Regions from separate parts of the Homo sapiens genome. Here region 1 is linked to region 2. The links come from fine-mapping of genetic effects on gene expression. A gene starts in region 2. The other region holds a variant in brackets. All regions are shown on one strand. Distances are between the middles of the regions. Region 1 overlaps CRADD (CARD and death domain containing adaptor protein). Region 2 holds the start of CRADD (CARD and death domain containing adaptor protein).

What was found.
Region 1: its variant is fine-mapped to the expression of CRADD in whole blood (INTERVAL, PIP 0.90).

What each region holds. Positions count from the first base shown.
Region 1 is chr12:93,826,829-93,829,745 of GRCh38, reverse strand. The region is part of intron 2 of CRADD (CARD and death domain containing adaptor protein); the gene reads right to left. Among named protein-coding and RNA genes, the nearest start is that of CRADD-AS1, 90 kb to the right of the region's middle. The variant A/G (reference allele first, on the strand shown) is at 1,519.
Region 2 is chr12:93,676,207-93,679,123 of GRCh38, reverse strand. CRADD (CARD and death domain containing adaptor protein) reads right to left here and starts at 1,749. Exons shown (of 3, transcript NM_003805.5): 1 at 1,652-1,749; 2 at 52-355. The coding sequence starts at 349. RefSeq lists enhancers at 1-61, 878-1,692, 1,665-1,904, 1,693-2,508.

The DNA of each region.
Region 1 (2,917 bases), 150 kb before region 2:
ACTCCAGCCTGGGTGACACAGCGAGGCTCCATCTCAAACAACAACAACAACAACAAAAAACCAAAACTTTAGGGAGCTGATGAAAGAGCTGACCCTAAAAGCAAATAAAAGAGCCCATCCATCAGAGGCTGCACAGTGGTAGCAATGGACTGAATTTGGCCCGTAGATGTGTTTCATTTGGCCTGTCCAGTTCAAAAAACTACAGAAAGAGCATTTAAAAATTGAGAGGTTTCACAAAATTCCAGATTTGTAGCTTTGCTTGTCAGCTCACCAGAGCCATCCTCATCCTGGCTACCCCCAGCATCCACTCTCCTACCACGCATGAGAAAGCCCAGTCACTGAGCTGATCTCCCGGGTCCAGGAACTTGCAAGCCTTATAGGGGTTTGATTTCTGCCTCCTGTACCAGATAATGGTAGAAAATCCTACACAGCATAATAGTCTAAAGCTTGGTGGATGAGCCTCCAGCCAGCTGGGGGAAGGAGAGCATAACAAAACAGACTCTTTTCACTCAAGGCAGCACAAACCCTCCCATGTGTCTGTGGTCTTTTCCCAGGGGTAAAAGACTGCCTGAGATAACTGTCTTTCCTCTCTCTGGAATGACATTGAAAAAAAAAAAAAAGGTGAAATCATAGGAAATAAGGACCAGAATTAGAACATTTTATTTTTCCTTGTATCCTTTGGCATCAAATAACACTATTTTTCACAGATGGGTTTTCAATAAACTTCGGAGCAAGGCTGTGGAAAATTTTTTAAATGCTGTATGGGTCTTAAAATGCCAGTTGTTCACATATAAAAATGTGTTTCCTCCCATGAACACATCCCCCTGGAAAGCTCAATCACTCCCGATCAAAATGACTTCCAATCAAAATCCAAACATATTTTTAAAAATAGAAATTGACAAGCTGATTCTAAAATTTATAAAGAAATGTGAAGACCTTAGAAGAGCCAAAATAATTTTGAAAAAGAATGCAGCTGGAATAATTACACTCCCTGATTTTAAGACATCCTAAAGCTATAGAAATTGACAGTGGGTATTAGTGAAAAGGTAGACAAATAGATCAATAAAACAGGAGAAAGTTCAGAAATAGATTTACACCCATGTGGAAACCTTTTGACAAAGGTGCAAAGGCAGTTCAATGGAGAAAGGATAGTTTCTTCAACAAGTGATGCTAAAACAACTGACTCTCCATACGCACAAGCACACATGTGCATACACACATGCAGACATACACAAGAATTTAAGGCATACCCCATATCATACACAAAAATTAATTCAACATGGATCATAGACCCAAATGGAAAACCTAAAACTATGGAACGTCTGGAAGAAAACATAGATGAATTATTTGCTTAGCTTAGGCAAAGACTTCTTTAAAATGGCACCATACTAAAAGCATGATCCATAAAAGAATAAATTGATAAGCTGGATGTCATCAAAATTTAAAACTTCTGCTATTTGAAAGACACTGTTTAGAAAATTAAAAGACAAACCACTGACTAGGAAAAAATATTTGCAA[A/G]TCATATCTTGTAAAGGACTTGTATACATATATATATACAAATAATTCTCAAAGCTTAACAAAAATAACCCAATTTTTTAAATGGGCAAAGATTTGGACAGACACTTCAGCTAAGAAGATACATGGATGGCAAATAAATACTTAAAAAGACACTCAACATCACTCACTAGAGAAATGTAAATTAAAATCACAATGCAATACCACTCTACTCAAATTAGAATGCTTGCCAGTCACAGAAAGACAAATACTACATGATTCCACTTATTTGAGGTATCTAATATAGTCAAACTCATAGAAACGGAGAATAGTGGTTGCCAGGAGGGAACCACTACTGGGGGAAGGGGGAAATGAGGAGTTGCTGTTCAACAGGTATGCTTTCATTTATGCAAGATGAGTAATTTCTAGGGATCTGTAACATTGTACCTATACTTAACAATACTGTATTGTGTAGATCTCATGTTAAGTGTTCTTACCACAATAAAATTGGTTAAAATAAAGAAGACTGAAGACAATGTTGGCATAGATATGGAAGAAACGGAACTCTCATACACTGCTGATAGAATCATAAAATGGGACAAACACTTTGGAAAATGATTTGGTAGTCACTTAACACGTTAAACATACATCTACCATATAGTCTAGCCATTTCACTTCTAGGTGTTTAATAAAGAGAAAAGAAAGCCCATGTCCATGCAAAGACTTGTAAATGAATGTTCCCGGCAGCTTTATTTGTAATAGCCGACGAAACAAATGTCTGTCGACAAGTGAATGCATAAACAAACTATGGCATATCTGCAAAATGAAATACTGTCCTACATTAAAAAGGGACAAAGTATTAATATGCACTTCAACATGGACAAATCTAAAAATAATTATGCGGAGTGCAAGTTGCCAGACAAAAGAGAATGCTGTAGAACTCCATTTATGTGAAATTCTAGGAAATGAAACCAACACATAATGACAGAAGGCAGATCCGTGTTTGCCTGGAGATGGGGGTGATGGGAAGAAGGAATTATAGAGGGACATGAGAAAACTTTTAGGAGTGTTGGATAGGTTCATCATTCTGACTGTGGCAATGGTTTCATGGGTGTATAAGTGTGTGGAAACATCAAATTACATACTAAGAACTTGTGCAGTTTACTGTATGTCAATTATACCTCAATAAAGCTGGGGGTTTTTTTGGGTTTATTTTGTCCCCTTCTTGTCCCTGGCCCCACTTCACTGGGTTAGGTCCTGTTCCCTAGACTCTCCCAGAATACTGCAGGATGGCCATCACAGTCTTGATCACTGTGGATAGTTTTCATCTAATTATTAGGTTGAGTCATTTGAAATTGCCAATATTCTACCATTTCTGGTCTACAACAATGGCAGTTTCACATGGCTCAACCTAACACTTGCT
Region 2 (2,917 bases):
CATAGTTACAACATTTTGGAGCTGGTTCAAAGTGATCTTTCTGAGGCCTACCTGCAGGCAGGTCGGTCATGGCCTCTTCCCTTGCCTTCTTCAGCTTCTCCCTGACCCAGGGAAACTCCTGTAGGGAATCTAGGAATGTATCAAATGCTTTAGGGCCCCTGGAAGGTAGGATATCCAGCAGGAGCATTGTTTTCCGGAGGCCTGTGGTTTGAGCATTGATTTCTTGAATATGGTTTTCCGTCAAGATTCCTTCCTGGTAGAGGTACTGAAGAACCAGTCCCTCCACCAATACCTCTGCACCCAGCTCCAGGCGAAGTGAGCGGAGTACTTGTTTGTCTCTGGCCTCCATTTCTCCCTGGAAAGAGCCAAAATCACAGCTCAAATTACAGACATGTTGATGTGGCCCTAAAGACAGTGTCACTGCAATGTAAGTTCCTTCAGGTCAAGCACATCTTTAAACCATAGCAGACTGCCAGGTCATGGTATTTAATTCACTGATTAAGCCAAGCCAGGTTAATTTTGAATGTTTCCTAACATAATGAACAACAATGAAGATGAATCATCTTTTCTGTTTCTGCTTTTCACACAATGGGGTCCCAGCTCAATTCCTCGTTCAATAAAGAAATTTGGAAAAAGAAAAAAAAAAAGTGGGTCAGAGACCCTTCTGAACAAGCAATTTTTATCTGAAGATTACAGAGCAGCACTAATTTTAACACGCTGGAGAAGAAATGGTGGTTTTATTTTCACATTGCCCTCATCAGACCTGCACCACCACCACCAAGGCAGAAACTGCCAAGGTGGACGCAGGTCCCCTTTTTTTGATCACAAGTATTTGCAAAACCTGATCAGTAATAGGAGTGCAGGACAGAAATCAGCAGGTTCAGAATTTAAGGCTCTTTTCGCTAAAAGTCCTCTACACGATCACCTTTAAGAAAATTGTTGTTTGTGCCCAGTCTACAATAAACTTTACACAATATACAGTCACAGACTCCATTCCTTCCCACTAAGAATTCCGAATCTCCAGCACAACACTGTCGTGGCCGCACATGCATGGGACATTTTATGGGATTTTTTTCTTTCAAAAAAAGCACACACCCCAGCACTGGTCAGTAGCCAGGCACGATTTGAAGGTGCAGTTCCACCACCCCTGCACCAGTGTGCTGTGGCTTGGTTGTGTGTAAGGCAGTGAAGGTTAAGTGACCGGGAAGGCAGGCAGGGATGACAGATGGGGCTTCAGACACACCCGGGCAGTACGACCACGGCTAGGCGACACCCGATCCCACACTCCCCCTCGCAACCCTGTAAAGTTCAGGAGGTGACAGGTGAGGAGGGGAGGTGTTCACGTTTGGCCGTGAGCGCCCATTGGGAACTATTTAAAAAGGCTCTGCTTCGGCCGCTGAAACCCTTGTATCAAACAGGAAGACTACGGGCGGTTTCTGCGGCAACTTGACCCGCTAAAGAGGGAGTGCTGGGAATGAACTAAAGAGCGGACCAAGGGGAGAGCGGGCCTCCGGCACTGCCGCAGCCACCCAGCCTTGGCCCGGATCGGAAATGCGGAGCAAGTTAGCGGGGCGGGGAAGCCCCCGCAGGGCCCAGGTCGCAGACGCTACAATGCAGGACTTTCAAAGAAAGATGGATTCCTGTTACTTACGTCTGCAACCACGTATCTTTGGGGCGGGGGAGAAAAACTGCAACCGGAATCCTGACTGTTAGGGAACCTGCCCCATAAGCACCATCTTTGTTAATGGCGAAAACCCTAAACAGGAAGTGTTGACACCATCTTTGTTGAGGGCAAGTACAGGAAGTGCTGTCGCCATTTTTATTGAGCGTTCAAGGGTCGGATCGAAGCTCTTCCCGCCATGCTTACTGTGGGTAAACAATTCAATAGCGGGGAGATGGACAACCGTAGTGTCACTTAAAGGGTATCTAAGTAATGGAGTAATTGAATCATTGCATTTTAACACAGTAACTCCATCAGGGCCTCGCACACAATTGACCTAACAGAGAGGCAGGTCAAAAGCCACCCTAGTAGAGAAGCCTTCTCTGACCTATCTGATTAAAACGGCAAGACAGCTGCGCTCATTTCCTGCACTCCCCATTAACCAGCTTTATTTTTTACGCATCACCATCTTATTAAAACTTTTCACTTATTCATTTGTTTATCCTTCTGCTTCCCTCCATTAAAATGCAAGGTCATTTATTTATATCAAGGGTTCCTGCCCGCAAAGAGTTTACAAATCTGTCAGTCAGGATTTCATTGCAGCACTCAGCTAGTTACTCCTAGTCAGAAAGGGATTCGTTAGGGGGAATTGGGGACATTCGAAATCATTGGAAAGGCTGGAGAAGGGCTGAGCTGAACATCCATGGATGACTACCTAGATAAGATTGCTGATTGTGGCTGCTGCCCACAATCAGGAAGATGGCGTCAGGAAGTTGCCATGCCTGGTCCCCAACCTCCTCTCAACACCGACAGAACAATTAACAGGACACTGGAACAGTGCTGCAAAAAACGGTGGTCTCCACGGCTGCATTTGCCAGCAGCAAGAAAACAGCACCTGCAAATCTTGCTTTGCTGCGTGCCATTGGTGAGACCAATCTGACATGCAGAATATTAGCAGCAAGGATGTCTAGAGCATGTAGTTGGTAGCTTTCCAGCTTGTGAAACACAAAAAGGTATAGTAAATGAGGGAAGGCCTGACACTTAAAGCCAATCTACTGCATCCACCACATTTTCAATGTGGAAAGCAAGAAAAAATGCATGACCCAAATACAGAGAAACACAGCAATGCCAAATTGGGTGTCCTTCCTCACATTCCTTTGTGAAGCGAGGCAGGCGATCAATAAATACATTCATTGATTCATTTTTAAATCAATTGGATGATACATACAGAAAGTCATATGCTTACTAAAAATCAGT